Linked DNA regions of Homo sapiens: region 2 is linked to region 1. The links come from fine-mapping of genetic effects on gene expression. Tissue or cell type: monocytes after Pam3CSK4. Region 1 holds a variant in brackets; the other region holds the start of a gene. All regions are shown on one strand. Distances are between the middles of the regions.

Evidence for each region. PIP is the estimated chance that this variant, and not a neighbour inherited with it, causes the effect.
Region 2: SNHG7 starts here. The variant in region 1 is fine-mapped to the expression of SNHG7 in monocytes after Pam3CSK4 (Quach 2016, PIP 0.95).

The regions. Positions count from the first base shown.
Region 1 is chr9:137,231,739-137,239,738 of GRCh38, forward strand. It overlaps SLC34A3 (solute carrier family 34 member 3), which reads left to right. Exons shown (of 13, transcript NM_001177316.2): 2 at 1-49; 3 at 334-423; 4 at 837-965; 5 at 1,046-1,189; 6 at 1,266-1,377; 7 at 1,471-1,666; 8 at 1,895-1,984; 9 at 2,125-2,203; 10 at 2,371-2,538; 11 at 2,678-2,794; 12 at 2,869-2,993; 13 at 4,214-4,817. The coding sequence ends at 4,678. Among named protein-coding and RNA genes, the nearest start is that of SLC34A3, 4.8 kb to the left of the region's middle. RefSeq lists silencers at 4,625-4,954, 4,975-5,204. The variant G/A (reference allele first, on the strand shown) is at 3,627.
Region 2 is chr9:136,725,147-136,733,146 of GRCh38, forward strand. SNHG7 (small nucleolar RNA host gene 7) reads right to left here and starts at 3,038. Exons shown (of 5, transcript NR_024543.1): 1 at 2,735-3,038; 2 at 1,900-1,940; 3 at 1,165-1,270. It overlaps LOC124900276 (cuticle collagen 2-like), which reads right to left and starts at 3,038. Exons shown (of 5, transcript XM_047424334.1): 1 at 2,735-3,038; 2 at 1,900-1,940; 3 at 1,165-1,270. It overlaps SNORA17B (small nucleolar RNA, H/ACA box 17B), which reads right to left and starts at 1,091; the gene lies at 958-1,091. It overlaps SNORA17A (small nucleolar RNA, H/ACA box 17A), which reads right to left and starts at 1,733; the gene lies at 1,601-1,733. RefSeq lists silencers at 2,786-3,465, 3,619-3,788 and enhancers at 4,236-4,385, 7,446-8,000.

The DNA of each region.
Region 1 (8,000 bases):
CCCACTCTGGACGCGGTTGACCTAGTGGAAAAGACTCTGAGGAATGAAGGTACCAGTGGCCCCTGTGCCCCAGGCCTTCACCAGTCTGACCACCCACCCCCCAGGCACTGGGCAGAGACAGGCCAGGTTTCCTGCGGGCCTCCCGGGGAACCCACAGGGCTCATGACGCCTCCACTCAGGTCCAGCCCAGCTGGAGCCCCATCTTCCCCGTTCCGTTTCTGTCCCTCACTCCAGGCCTCTTACGCCTCAGCCCGTCCTCCGGCCTGTGCCCTTGTGCCCCCAGTTGGAGGGAGGTGGTCCTGGAAACAGCCGTACTCAATTCTACCTCCACAGGGACCTCCAGTTCTGCTCCAGTCTTGGAGGAAGGGGACACAGACCCCTGGACCCTCCCTCAGCTGAAGGACACAAGCCAGCCCTGGAAAGGTGGGTCTGGAGGTTCCGGGGGTGGCAGGCTGGCAGGCCTCTGTCCCCAACGGGACTGGGGAGACAGAGCAGGGTGGGGCCTGCCCAAACAGGCTGTGTGTGGGGAACTCCGCCATGCAGGCCCCCTCTGGGGAGACACGTGTCCCTCAACCGGGTGTCTGTGCTGTCCTGGGGCAGACCGGCCACCTCTGCCCATCCGTCCCTCCCCTCCTGCTCCTGCGAGGGAGGGTCCCAAGGGCTTCTGGCTTGGAAAGGCAGGAACCCGGGCCCTGCCCTGGGGGTTACGGAAGAGGAGGAAATGGGACCCAGCCCTGTTGGAGACAGAGGAGAGAGGGGGCAGAGAATGAGGGGCCTGGGAGGGAGACCTGTCAGGGTGGAGGGCCAGCCAGGGACAGCCTGCCCTGTGTCCTCAGAGCTCCGCGTGGCCGGCAGGCTGCGCCGCGTGGCCGGCAGCGTCCTCAAGGCCTGCGGGCTCCTCGGCAGCCTGTACTTCTTCATCTGCTCTCTGGACGTCCTCAGCTCCGCCTTCCAGCTGCTGGGCAGTGAGTGACGGGACGGGTGCCCAGGGCGGGGCGGGCAACCAGCCCTCCGCAGCTTCAGCGCACCTCTCTTGCCGGTGTAGGCAAAGTGGCCGGAGACATCTTCAAGGACAACGTGGTGCTGTCCAACCCTGTGGCTGGACTGGTCATTGGCGTGCTGGTCACAGCCCTGGTGCAGAGTTCCAGCACGTCCTCCTCCATCGTGGTCAGCATGGTGGCTGCTAAGCGTGGGTGCACACTCCCTCCCCGGGTGGTGGGGGGGGCAGGGTGGGCCGCAGGCTGACTCAGCCCCCCCACCAGCAGTGCTGACTGTCCGGGTGTCTGTGCCCATCATCATGGGTGTCAACGTAGGCACATCCATCACCAGCACCCTGGTCTCAATGGCGCAGTCAGGGGACCGGGATGAATTTCAGAGGTGAGTTGTGGGTGGAAGGGCTGGGCTGGGGCTGCAGTGGCAGCCCCAGCCCGGGCCCCCCCACCTGACCCTGCCCACTCTCTGCGGCCACAGGGCTTTCAGCGGCTCGGCGGTGCACGGGATCTTCAACTGGCTCACAGTGCTGGTCCTGCTGCCACTGGAGAGCGCCACGGCCCTGCTGGAGAGGCTAAGTGAGCTAGCCCTGGGTGCCGCCAGCCTGACACCCAGGGCGCAGGCGCCCGACATCCTCAAGGTGCTGACGAAGCCGCTCACACACCTCATCGTGCAGGTGAGGACGGCCACCGCCCCCGCCCAGAGAGCCTGAGCAGGCCGGATGGGAGGAGGGGAGGCCCGCCCTGCCCTGATGGAGGGTCAGCGGAGGGTCTGGGCCCTGTCCTGGGACAGGGGAGGAGAGGGCAGCAGTGGGCAGGGCTGGGCTGGACCCCGCGGGCGCCAGAGCCCCGGGTGAGTCCTGAGAGAGGGTGCAGCACACCGTCACGACCCCTCTGGCCCCCAGTTGGACTCCGACATGATCATGAGCAGTGCCACAGGCAACGCCACTAACAGCAGTCTCATTAAGCACTGGTGCGGCACCACGGGGCAGCCGGTGAGGCACCCAACCCTAGGCCCTCACTGACCCCCAACCTCCCACCTGCTGAGTCATCCCGCCCCACCCACCCTCACCTCGAGCCCTCTGACCTCTGTCTGCCCACTGAGCCTGTCCTGAGTCCTCCCTGCCCTCCCCAGACCCAGGAGAACAGCAGCTGTGGCGCCTTCGGCCCGTGCACAGAGAAGAACAGCACAGCCCCGGCGGACAGGCTGCCCTGTGAGGCCCGGCCCACCCCAAGCCCCCTACACCCCCCACACTCCCCCTCACCGGCCCCTACATGGAGAGGAACAGCACAGCCCCGGCGGACAGGCTGCCCTGTGAGGCCCGGCCCACCCCGGCCCACCCCCCAGGCTCCCCCTCACCTGCCCCTGCCCTGCCCCCAGGCCGCCACCTGTTTGCGGGCACGGAGCTCACGGACCTGGCCGTGGGCTGCATCCTGCTGGCCGGCTCCCTGCTGGTGCTCTGCGGCTGCCTGGTCCTCATAGTCAAGCTGCTCAACTCTGTGCTGCGCGGCCGCGTGGCCCAGGTCGTGAGGACAGTCATCAATGCGGGTGAGGGCGTGGGAGGAGGTGCGGTGGCCAGGGCTGACCCAGCATCCCCCATAGACTTCCCCTTCCCACCAGGCTGACTCGGGGGCTACCTGGCCCTCCTTGTGGGCGCTGGCCAGGGCTGACCCGGCATCCCCCACAGACTTCCCCTTCCCGCTGGGCTGGCTCGGCGGCTACCTGGCCGTCCTCGCGGGCGCCGGCCTGACCTTCGCACTGCAGAGCAGCAGCGTCTTCACGGCGGCCGTCGTGCCCCTCATGGGTGAGCAGGCAGGACAGAGGCCTCGGGAACGGGGGCTCGGGCTGGGGTCCTGTGGTGACTCCCAGTTCCCCCAGGGGTCGGGGTGATCAGTCTGGACCGGGCGTACCCCCTCTTACTGGGCTCCAACATCGGCACCACTACCACAGCCCTGCTGGCTGCCCTGGCCAGCCCCGCAGACAGGATGCTCAGCGCCCTGCAGGTACTGTCCACCCTGCCCCGCTGCCAGAACTGGCCAGCTTCCTCTCAGCCCCACAGACAGGAGTGTGTCACCAGCCCCGGGGCCCTAGGCTGGCTGTGCCCCCGCCTTCCTGGACCCCTTCCCTGGCCGCCAGCCTCAGCCCTGCTGCTCTGCCTCCTTGGACCCCACAGGTCCTGCACACATTTCACACCCTCCCTGCGTCTCCTCCCTTGAGACCTCCTCACTTCCACATTTTCTCAGCTCTTTGCTGTGTCCCTGGGGGCCTGCCCCCAGCATCTCAGGGGGCTCTAAGCCCCTCTATTCCAGCACCCTCAGATGCTTTCCCCCAACCCCTGCTCCCTCAAGGAGCAGCCACTCACCTCCAGCAGGTCCCCATCTGGACGACCCTCCCAGCCCCCATTCCACATCTGCAAAGGCCGAGTCCCACCGATGCTGGGCCCTGCCCTGCCGCTGCCAGGGCTGTGATTCTGCCTCCAGGACACTTCCCCCAGTCTGAGCCCCCAGCTCTGTGCCCCAACCCCAGTCTCATTTAGTCCAGCTGGTTCTCCCTCTAAAACAGCCCGTCTGCGGCCTGCTGCCCGGAGGCCCAACAGGTTCAGCTCCCGAAACTCCGGGTCATGCTGCACCGCCGCT[G/A]ACAGGAAGAGACAAGTGCGGCACCCCCTGGAACCCACGCTCGTTCTTCTTGCCTCTGCCCTGTCTCTATCCACTTAGACCCTCCCAGTGCAGGGTCCTGCTCCACCCCCTGCAGGAAGCCCTCCAGACTGCACCTGTGTGTGGACTCCTCCAAGTCCGGCAGCCCCTGGAGGGGCCCGTGACACTGTTCTCCCCTCCTGTGGCCCTGTGCCTCCTCCCCGCAGGGCCTGGACTGTGCAGGCTCAGCACACTGGGGACTGAGGAGACGGGGTCTCTTGGCAGGAGGCACAGGCAGAGCCAGGTCGGAAGGTGCTTCCCCCGCAGGTCCCCCTTGAGGGCAGCAGTGATGCAGTCAGTGCTCGGGGGTGCTGGGCTGGACTGCAGCTCCCAGGAGCGTGCGGGAGGCGTGCTGGGGAACATGTCCACATCTGGCCACAGCCCGCCTCCCAGACGGCCATCTCATCCGTGAAGCAGGATGAACTTCAGACTTGGCGCTCCTTCTGTAGGGTGGAGGAGGGCAGGGGTCCGGGGCCCCTGGTGACCCCACCTCGTTGGGCCCAGGCCCCTGACAGCCCCCTCGCCCCCAGGTCGCCCTCATCCACTTCTTCTTCAACCTGGCCGGCATCCTGCTGTGGTACCTGGTGCCTGCACTGCGGCTGCCCATCCCGCTGGCCAGGCACTTCGGGGTGGTGACCGCCCGTTACCGCTGGGTGGCTGGGGTCTACCTGCTGCTCGGATTCCTGCTGCTGCCCCTGGCGGCCTTCGGGCTCTCCCTGGCAGGGGGCATGGAGCTGGCCGCTGTCGGGGGTCCCCTGGTGGGGCTGGTGCTCCTCGTCATCCTGGTTACTGTCCTGCAGCGGCGCCGGCCGGCCTGGCTGCCTGTCCGCCTGCGCTCCTGGGCCTGGCTCCCCGTCTGGCTCCATTCTCTGGAGCCCTGGGACCGCCTGGTGACCCGCTGCTGCCCCTGCAACGTCTGCAGCCCCCCGAAGGCCACCACCAAAGAGGCCTACTGCTACGAGAACCCTGAGATCTTGGCCTCCCAGCAGTTGTGACGGGCAGTTGCTGAGCAGACCGCCCCACCCTCCCCGGCTGGGAGGGCTCTGGAGGGCCCTGGAGGGGGGGTCCCCGCGGCAGCTGACCTCCGGTCACCTGCTTCCCCTTCTGTGCAAATAAACCAGGCTGTTATCTGGGGTGGCGGTCCTCACTCCCCTAGACAGGGGCCGCCTGCGCAGGTGGGGGAAGCAGCCCGATGCTGCCTCCTGGTGGACACTCCGGGGCCTGGGGCTCAGGCACAGGAGCCCGCCCACCCCAAGGTGTGTTTCTCACGGCAGCCGCTGGGGACAGAAGCTCCCAAGGAATGGCGGGCCTGGGGGGGCGGGGACTTCCCACAGTGGGAGCTGGGGCCCCTCCTGGGGGCGCAGGGGAGAGCCCAGCCAGCAGGGAGCAGGGCCGGTGGTGCAGGGTGTGGGGGATCCCGGAGCTCCTCTGCCCCGGCGGATGTCATGGTTGGGGTGGGGACTGGAGTCCCATCAGGTGCGTGGGGTGTGAGAAGGGACCCTGACGGCTTGGAGGGCCAGGTGGTCCCAGAGGCACCACCTGTCTGTCTGCCCTCTGTGTCTCTCAGCCGGTCCTGGGCTGGGCCCCTCGGGGACACTTCTCTGCAGGGCTGGGCCACGGCAGGTGCTCAGCTCCCAGAACCCACCAGGAAGCCAGTCTCACCCGCCAGGCTGGGGCACACTGAGGCCTCCCACTGCCACGGAGAATGAGACCCTGTCCCGGGAAGGCCTGTCCGTGGGGTGGGCCCAGGAGGGCGGACAGCACCCATGGGGAGGACTTGGGGGCCAGGGGGCCCTCCCTCTGCTGTGTGGTCGGGTTTCCACACAGGAAGGCTTGTCTGCCAGCCAATGGGTAACTGGACACCTAGGAAGTTGAGGGGGGGCTCCTGCCACCTCTAGCCCAGAGCTGCCCACAGCCCTAACCCAACCCCCACTCCCGCCAAGGGAAGAAAGCCTTGGGTTACCCCAGAACTGGAGCATTCATTCAGGCACACAGAGACGGGTGGGTGAGGGGACGGTCCCATCAGGGACAGGTCTAGTTTGCTCATTTGAGTCTGCTGCTGTGGCCAGTCACGTTCTCCCTTCCAGAACTGCAGCCCTGTTGGGGGGCAGCTCTCTTCCCAGAGCCTCCCAGGATTGCCTGGTCAGACCCCACTAGGGGATAGAGGTGCAGCCACTCAGGAAGATGAGGCCTGAGGGGGCCCCACGGCCACTTCTCCTCTGTGGCTCTGTTCTTTTCTGCCCTCAGTTTCCCTTTGCCCCTGCTCATGACCCCCAGACCCTCTGTGCCCTTGGCCCCCAGTCTTCCCTGGGTCCTCTGCCCCAGCCACCCCTCAAACTCTTAGGCCTCCTGGGCCTTGGTTTCACCTACCGAGGGAGGTGACCACCTGCTCTGGGAGCCAGGGGTGCCTCAGGGGTGGGCTCCAGTGAGAATGGGACCCCCAGCAGCTAGAGCTTTGGTTCTCACAGCCCTGTGATTCTAGGACGCCCCTGTGGACCTGACATCAGCCTCATAGAACCGTCTGGCACCCCTGTAGGGGACAAGCCTGGCTAGCTCCCTGGGGAGCCTGAGGGGCCGGGGAGCTCCCCTGTCCTTTGGGGGGGGATCAGTGAGGCCCTTGTGGAGAGAGGGAGGAAGCACCCCATGCACCTGTCCTTCCAGGGCAGGTGAGGCCTCCCACAAAGGCTGGGCGTCTGGTCCTTTAAGGCAGCCAATACTGTCTGCCTGCTGTCCCTGCCTGGCGGTAACACACCCTCCCACTGGGACCATGGCCACCAGTAAACAGAGCCTTCGTTGTGGATCCTCCGACAGCTGCAGGAGGAGGAGGGCAGGTGCCCAGCACTCCCACAGCCACGCCTGCCCCGCTTCCCTGCCCTTCTGGCCCTCCTTGGACCACATCCTGCCTGGCCACAGACCCCAGGCCCAGGAGTTGGTCCTCCTGCCCCACACTATCCCGCCTCTCCATCCTGCAGCAGGGCACCTTGGCTCAGGGTGGGACCTACAGAGCCTTCCCCAACCAGTTTTGTGCAACAGGGGTGGCTGCTGTCCTTGTTGGGCTCAGGCCCAGGCTTCAGGGTGTCTACTGCTGTCTTGTCCCCAGCCAGTGTCCACCTCACCAGGGCAATGCAAGGGCAAAGTAGGCAAGCTGGTGCCATGGCGAGCTCTGGGGCTCTCACCTGGGCAGGTGACACCTGTGAAACGGGTGGCACACTGACCTCCCAGCCCTGTGGGCACTGGTCACAGGAAGCAGGGGCCTTTACTGGAGAGGGGTTGGGAGACTCTGACAAGGTGCAGGAATGCCACACACCTCAAAGAGCAGCCTCAGTTGGGCTCTGCACAGTTCACTGAGGAAAAAAACAGAGCTTCTCCTTCTCCCCTTTGTGACAACTCAATGTTATGAGACTCCAACATGTCCCTGACTACTGCCTGGACAGCTGAGCTACTCTGCAGGACCCCAGGATGCCCTGGGCACTAGGAGAAACCTGGGATGGCTGGCAGCAACCTGTGCACCCCTCAGGCCGCTGCAGGACCCCAGTCCCTCTGAGGGTCAAGGCCTGTGTCACAGTGGTCACTGGAAGCCAGGCCCGCCTTCCTGGGCTGATCTGTGGGGGAGGCCACCCTCCTGGACAGGATGGCAAACTGGCAACAGACCCCCGAGGAGTGAGCACAGCTGCAGGCCCTCGCCCCAGAAGGACAATGCTGATCCCCGCGCATGCTCCGGTGCTGCGTGTCCCGAGTTCTGGTATCGCGCATTATGTGGTGAAGACAGAGGTGCAGTCCCTCCAGGAAGAGAGAAATAAATAAGCAGATGTTGTTTCCAACAGCCTCCAATTGGGAGACAGATGCCCAGTGGCCAGAGCACAGGAGACTGTCAGGGCCGACCTGATGGTGTAATTTATTTAAAATGCTACAAAAATACAGCCAGGTGCAGTGGCTCATGCCTGTAATCCCAGCACTTTGGGAGGCCGAGGCGAATGAATCACAAGGTCAGTTCCAGACCAGCCTGGCCAAGATGGTGAAACCCCATCTCTATTAAAAATACAGAAATTAGCCGGGCGTGGTGGCGGGCGCCTGTAATCCCAGCTACTCGGGAGGCTGAGGCAGGAGAATCGCTTGAACCCGGGAGATGGAGGTTGCAGTGAGCCGAGATCATGCCACTGCACTCCAGCCTGAGCGACGGAGCCAGACTCTGTCTCAAAAAAAAAAAAAAAAAAAAATAGCCAGGCGTGGTGGTGCACACCTGTAGTTCCAGCTACTTGGGAAGGTGAGGCAGGCGAATTGCTTGAACCGGGGAGGCAGAGGTTGCAGCGAGCTGAG
Region 2 (8,000 bases), 510 kb before region 1:
TTCTTTAACCCGGATTCACCAAATGACCCTCAGGGAACCCAATTTATGAAATCCCGAAACTGTACTTTTTTTTTTTTTTTTTTTTTTGAGACAGAGTCCCACTCTGTTGTCCAGGCTGGAGTGCAGTGGTGCGATCTCGGCTCACTGCAACCTCTGCCTCCCGGGTTCAAGCGATTCTCCTGCCTCAGCCTCCCAAATAGCTGGGATTACAGGCTTGCGCCACCACACCTGGCTAATTTTTGTATTTTTAGTAGAGATGGGGTTTCAGGCAGTTGGCCAGGCTGGTCTCGAACTCCTGACCTCAGGTGATCCACATGCATTGGCCTCCCAGAGTGCTGGGATTACAGGCCTGAGCCACCGCGCCAGGCCTCCAGAAAGTGTATTTTGAAGTTATCTTTCTTGATACTGTCTCTTAGCAGGAGTCTGACACTGGCACTGCTGACATTTGGGCCACATCACTCTTCACTACGGGGCGTCCCAGGCACTGCAGGACATGCAGCTGCGTCTTTGGCCTCTGTACCCCCATTGCTACCCATTTTGGGGAGAGGATTCCTGTTTCCAAAGTGACCCAGACACATCTCTGGGCAAGGCAGCTCCTGACCCCTACCCAGGGCCCTTCCTTTGTGCACAGGAGTTGCAGCCCCGCCCCCGCCCCCCTGGGATGACTAGTGCTGGACAAGGAACAGCCTGTTTATCCAGCTCGACTGTTCTTAATCAAACTTGCCTAAGGCCTCCCAGACAGACCTACAGAATCGTTTCCAGAACGAGGCCTGGGAGTGAGACGCACACTCCTGGTAACCCCACAAGTGCCCGAGCTTCAGATACACACACAGCTCATTTATACATATCTACACCTCAGGGTTCCCAGCGATGTTGCTGCCCCTCCCTCATGGAGCAAACCAGGTAAGGTGGTTTCCAAAAGCGAAAATCCAAATGCTGCCTGGCTTTGGTTGCAAGTAATGTCAGGCCATAAACCATTCTCAGTGCCCACTGGTTCCCGAGCACTGAGTGTAGAAATCGCCACTTTCTCTTTGCCCCGAGGCCACAGGCACAGCAGAGCAACTGTCTGTGGTGCCAACAGGTCCAGGACAGCATCCGCAGGGCAGCCGCTCACACGCACCCGGCAGGCAGGGAAGGAGGGCAAGCCTCCGCCTCACCTCTTACCTGGATCAGGGCTGGTGCTGGTCAGCCTGGTCACTCTGGCCAGTGCTCACACTGGAAGTCCATCACAGGCGAAGTCACCTCCTTCCCGTGTTAAATAACAAGAATGCTTGGCAAAGAATCAAGAACACAAGCGGCTGCCGTTACTGCTATTAACCGAGACGCCAGCAAACCCTTCCCCAGTCCTGTCCTGCGTGATCCTGACACGGTGTACGGCATGATCCAGCGCGTACCTCACCTGACCTGACCGATCCTCACAGGTTCTTAAAACTCACTCATGAAGGCTGCTCCTGGTGAAGGCACCCTCCACCTTCCCACTATCCCTTCAGACCCCTAGAGGCCAGCCTAGCCCAGCGCGAGAGTTAGAAAGCCCACTCACAGGGCCCACCCTCTCTCCCAGATACCAGCGAAGGAAAACAGATGCCTGTCCACAAAACAGGAGTGTGAGACTATCAAACATTCAAACGTTCACGGGGCAGAACGCTGAGCGTAGACATAGCCTCTCTAATCTCTGCCACCTAATGACACAGATGTGACACGGCAGCCACAGCTGCAACGCCTCTAGGGGCAGTGTCCTGTTGAAGACTAAATAATCCGTTTTTACTCCCCTGGAGACAGCTTCTAGCCTCAATGTGAACACAAGACCGACTGGTCCCTCCAGTCACTTAAGATGTTGCACAGGAGGGCTTAGTTACATTGGAGGATTGACCCTGTTCCAGCTCCAATGCACCAACTTACCCAACACCCCACGCACGTGTCATCTCCAGTGAGCAGACGTCCTAGAGAAAAAAAGAAACCGCAATTTTGTATAAATCTTGCAAACACCACAGAGGAGCATCACATAAACACTGCGTTTTTTGGGAGGCCGAGGCGGGCAGATCACTTGAGGTCAGGAGTTCAAAACCAGCCTGGCCAACACGGTGAAACCCGTCTCTCTAAAAAAAAAAAAAAAAAAAGTTAGCTGGCCTAGTGGCTGGCGCCTGTAATCCCAGCTACTCTGGAGGCTGAAGCAGGAAAGTCGCTTGAACCCAGGAGGCAGAGGTGGTAGTGAGCTGAGATCGCGCCACTGCACTCCAGCCTGGGCAACTGAGACTCTGTCTCGAAAAGAAAAAGACTGCGTTTTGCTGCATCTGGTCTCCAGGAAGGCGGACCAAAGAAGCTCCCTGCCACCAAAAAGCTCACTGTCACAAGGGCCGTTCTAGAAAAATCCGACCCATGTTACTCTCTCCCCTTACTCTACGCTTAATTTGCGGGAGGGGAAGTTGGAGTTACAACACAGTGGCCACGAAACGCGGGCTGCTGATCCCCTGCAGGTATCAAGGGACCAGGACCACGAGGCGGAATGCCCACCAGACAACCGAGCAGTCCTCCTCCCGCCAGAACAGCCTCCCGCTGAGCAGCCACAGTGACAAGGAAACCACCTGACGCAGCATAAGAAATCAATTTTTCAAAGATGCCGACAAACATCTTCCCACAGCCTGAGCGACTCAGGGAAGCAGCGGCAGGAGCGGAAGGGTCGTGGGTGAACGGGGTGCCTTTCTCTAAGATCCGAATTCGCGCACTCAGCTCTCACCAGGCTTCCCGAAGCTTCCTGGCTGGAAACCGCGCAGGGCCGGCAGCGCCCTCTCCACCAAGGGACACACCAGCGGCGCCTCCTCCGCGGCCCGGGCCCCCATCCCGCGGCTCGCGCGGCCAGGACGCCCCAGGTCGGAGCCTGCCCCCACCCCGCACCCGGAGGCCAGCAGCCCAGTCCCCTAGGCCGCGCAGCGCCAGCGAGAGCGAGGCTGCAGGGCGAGGCCCGGTGAGGCGCTCGAGAACTGGCCGGGAGGAGAAGTCAGGCGGCCCACCCGCCACGGCAGCCTCCGGCGCACGCAGAGGACGAGAAGGGAAGCGCCGCGCCTTTTATAGCGCGTACGGCGGCCCGCAAGAGTCAATCCGCCCCGCCCAAGCAGCGCCCCCCAGCGGTCCCCGGCCGTTCAGCTCCCCGCGCCCGCACGTGGGCGCTGCTCAGTGGCTGGCGGGCGGGCGTGTGGGTTCGCCACGCAGAGCAGCGGCAGCGCCGTGACCCGTGTCCTGCACCGCGACCGCCCCACGGGGCCAGCAGCCAGGGCCGCGCCGTTTCCGACCCGCCGGGTGCCGGGCACGCCACGGACACGCGCGGCTCCCCGTTTTCGCGGAGGATTCCCAGGCCGGGTCAGGAGGACGCTCCACGAGCCCGTGGGTCCCGGTGGTCCCAGCCATTGGGGCGGCTCCCGTGACTGTCGAGCAGCGCCCACCCCGGGCAGCATGGGGCTCCCGCGACGCGCTCCGTCCCTTCCCCACCAGGGGCTCTGCCGGTGTCGGCCATGGGCGCGGGTACACACCAGGCGCCTAATGAGTGCTGAGGCGGGCGAGGGTCCCGGCAGGCGGGATTACCGCGGCCAGGCCTGACTAGCGCCCTGTCTGCGCTGTGTCCTGGGACCTCGGTCACCGCGCAGGGCGGGACACCGAGGCCTCGCGGCCAAGCGACTCGCCGCGGTCGCCGGGCTGCGAACGGTGGAGCCGCCGGGACTCGGACCAGGACGCGAGCTCCAGAGCAGGGGATGACAGGCCTGAGCCGCAGGGGCCGGGAGGAAGGCCGCGCTGCTGTCCTGGGGCTGGGCAGCCTCCGCATTGCACAGCGCAGACCGCTCTAGCCTTAGGCCTGGAGGGGACACCAGGAGATGAGGCTTCTGGCTCAGCCTGCTCTCTGCAGCCACAGGCAAAGGCCAGGAAGGCCGGGGTGCGGGAGCTGGCATAGGAGCTGGCTCCAGCTCGGGTACTGGCTTAGAGGGAGCAGGAGCTGGTGATAAATTCAACTCAAATTTTCATTGCCTTTGCAAAGCCAGAAAACACCCCAGGGCTCCTAAGAAAAGCCCCAGCGCAGGACCCCAGGACACTTTGCAACTGGGCTGCAACTGCGCGGTCTGAGGCTCCTCCCTGTGTGGCCCCACCAGCAGGCTGGGTTCTAGCTCTGGTGTTGGGGCTGGAGCTGGCACCACAGCAGGCTCCACCTCCAGAGATGGTGCAGGCTCTGTCCTAGCACTGACACGGTTGTTGGAGACAAGCTGGCTCTGCCCCGGGGACCGATGCTCTGGAGCTGCCTCTAGCTGTGTTGCTGTTGCTAGTCTTTGCCCTGGGAAAAGTGTCAGAGCTGGTCCTAGCTCTGGATATGGTGCTAGAGCTGGTTCTTGATTGGATTTCGCTCTAGAGCTGGCAGGAACTCTGGCTCTCGTTCTGAAGCTGGTGCAGGTCTGAGATGGCTGTAGCTCTGGAGCTGCCTCTAATTCTGGTTCTGGTTGTGGAATCAGCCATCGCTTTATATCTGGTGCCAGCTCTGGCTCTGGAGGTGGTGCTGCAGCTGGCCCTTCCTCTGAACCTGGCACTGGCTTGAGGTCTACACCTGGAACTGGCTGAAACTCTGGAAGTGGTTTTGGAGCCGGTGCCCGAGCAGTCACCGGAGGTGGCACCAGATTTGGTGATAGAGCTGCCTCTGTTTCTGGAGTAGGTGGTAGAGCTGGTGCGGCAGCTGGAGTGAGATCTGGAGTTGTGCTGGCTGTGGCCATAGTTCTTGAGCTGGTACAGGAACCCGCACTGGTGTGAGCCGCGGTGCTGAAGCTGGGCCTGTAGCTGATGCTGGCCCTGGCTCTTTTTCTGAACCTGATGCTGATATTTGGCCCTAACCATGCAAATGGTTTTGGAACTGGTCCTGGCTAGAGGGCGGATGCTGGAGCTATAGTGGAGCCGGCACAGAAGTGACCAGAGCTGCCCCTGTCTCTGGGTGTGCTGCTGGAGCTGTTGCTGGAGCTGGCTCTGATCCTGGAACTAGCACCCGAGTTGTAGCCGGAGCTGGCTCTACCTTCTGAGCTGGTGCAGGAGTTGGCTGTAGCTCTGTAGCTAGTGAAAGCTCTAGCTGTGGAGAGAGGGCAAGAGACATCTCCTCCTTCAGAGATACTGAGTCCATTGCACCCGACCCAGCACTTGCTCCATGCTGCGGGGTAGATCTACCAAGCACTTACTGAAACCAGTATGCATAGCCCCGGAGCAGACCATGACCTGCTGAGACCCAGGAGAGGACCTGAGCCCCAGCACCTGAGAGAGGAGCTACCCCATGACAGTGGGGTACTTAGAAGGTGGAGATGTCACATCCCCTGCCCCAGGTCACATGACAGAGGTCAGAGGGTAGGTAGATGGCACTTCTGTGCAGGTCAGCCCAGGCTAGGTGCGGTGGCTCACGCCTGTAAGGCCAACACTTTGGGAGGCTGAGGCGGGCGGATCACCTGAGGTCAGGAGTTCATGACCATCCTGGCCAACATGGTGAAACCCTGTCTCTACTAAAAATACAAAAATTAGCCGGGCATAGTGACGCAACCCTGTAATCCCAGCTACTTGGGAGGCTGAGGTGGGAGAATGGCGTGAACCCGGGAGGCGGAGTTTGCAGTGAGCCAAGATCGAGCCTTTGCACTCCAGCCTGGGCGACAGAGCGTCTCAAAAAAACAAAAAAAAAAATTCTGGAGAAGATGATGGGGGTGATGGTCGCACGACAATGTGAATGTACTTAATGCCACTGGAGTGTGCACTTAAAAATGGTTAGGGCAGGCCGGGCGCAGTGGCTCATGTCTGTAATCCCAGCACTTTGGGAGGCCGAAGTTGGGCGTATCACCTGAGGTCGGGAGTTTGAGACCATCCTGACCAACATGGAGAAACGCCATCTCTACTAAAAATACAAAATTCGCCGAGCGTGGTGGTGCATGCCCGTAATCCTGCTACCTGGGAGCTGAGGCAGGAGAATCGCTTGAACCCGGGAGGCAGAGGTTGTGGTGAGCCGAGATCCAGCCATTGCACTCCAGCCTGGGGAACAGAGCGAGACTTTGTCTCAAAAAAAAAAGGTTAAGGCCAGGCCGGGTGTGGTGGCTCACGCCTGTAATCCCAGTCCTTTGAGAGGTCAAGGTGGGCAGATTGCTTGAGGCCAGGAGTTCCAGACCAGCCTGGGCAACACGGTGAAAATTAGCTGGACAAAATTAGCCAGGCATAGTCTGTAATCCTAGCTACTCAGGTGGCTGAGGTGGGAGGATCCTTTGAGCCCAGGAGTTGGGGGCTGCAGTGACCTGTGATTGTGTCACTGCACTCCAGCCTGGATAACAGAGACAGAACCTGTCTAAAAAAAAAAAAAAGGTTAAAACGGTGAATTTTATGTTCTGTATATTTTACTGCAATAAAAAATTTAAGGAAATTATTTATTTACTGCCTTAGTTTATTTGTGCTGCTATAACAAAATACCTGGGACTGGGTAAATTATAAAGAACAGAACAGTTCTGGAGGCTGGGAGGTCTGGGAACAAGGTGAGTGTCTGGCGTCTGGTAAGGGCCTTCTTGCTCTGTCCCGTAGCAGCAGAGCAGCCTAGCAGGATGCTGCTTCAGAAGGGCCTTCATCCCATTCACACGGGAGGAGACCTCATGGCCTAATCGCCTCTTCAAAGGCCCCACCTCTTGATATGTTCACACTGGCAACATCTGAATTTTGGAGAGGACACATTCAAACCACAGAACTTACCATTCAAAACAAAATAGAAGCCCACCAGGCGCGGTGGCTCACGCCTGTAACCCCAGAACTTTGGGAGGCCAAGGTGGGTGGATCACCTGAGGTCAGGGGTTCAAGACCAGCTTGGTCAATGTAGTGAAACCCCATCTTTACAAAAATACAAAAATTAGCCAGGCATGATAGTGGGTGCCTATAATCCAAGCTACACAGGAGGCTGAGGTGGGAGAATCACTTGAACCCAGGAGGCGGAGTTTGCAGCGAGCTGAGATTGTGCCACTGCACTCTGGCCTGGGCAACAGAGTGAGACACCGTCTCAAAAAAATTTTAAAAAAATTTAAAAACCCAACCAAAGAGGCCTGGCGCAGTGGCTCACGCCTGTAATCCCAGTACTTTGGGAGGCTGAGGCGGGTGGATCACCTGAGGTCAGGAGTTCGAGACCAGCCTGGCCAACATGGGGAAACCCCATCTCTACTAAAAATGCAAAAATCAGCTGGGCATGATGGTGCGCACCTATAATCCCAGCTACTCAGGAGGCTGAGGCAGGAGAATCACTTGAACCTGGGAGGCAGAGGTTGCAGTGAGCAGATATTGTGCCACTGCATGCACTCCAGCCTGGGCGGCAGACTGAGACTCCCTCTCAAAAAAAAAAAAAAAAAAAAAACCAAAACAAACAAAACAAAAGTGACAGCAACAGACAGCCCGCAGTCTCAGAACACCCACACTCTGTGACGACTCAGAATTTCTTCCAGACTTCACGGATCACCATTCTGGATAAAACAACAAATCAACTAAACGTGGACGCCTTCCCCTCCCTGCTTTGGCTGCCTTGTGGACACAGGTTCACACCAAGGTCATTACCAAGGGTTTGCATCCCCCCCAAGCTCTCCCCCCCACCCCCCGCCACACCCCTGAGGGTTGGGACATTCTGGAATTGCTTTGTTGATTGGCGCTGATGAGGAGGGCTTTGAAGGAGCCGTGTGAACATCCTTCAGGTCAAGGCCTGGGCGAAGCTGGCCCTGAGGCTGGAAGACATTCCTGGAGAAAATGCAGGGGCTCCTGGCCCCTACACGAAGTCCAAATGCAGAGGGCTGTGAAGTGGGCGGTGGGTGTGGGAGTGGGAAGGTGGAGGTGTCACGCCCCTGCCCCAGGTCACGTGACAGAGGTGGAAGGGTAAGTACAAGTCAGAGTACCCAGTGGAGCCCTGCAGGGCTGCTGGCGAGTGCTGCTGGGGCTGCAGAGTGTGTGAAGCCAGGCACCCCAGGACGTTTTGGGCATGAACA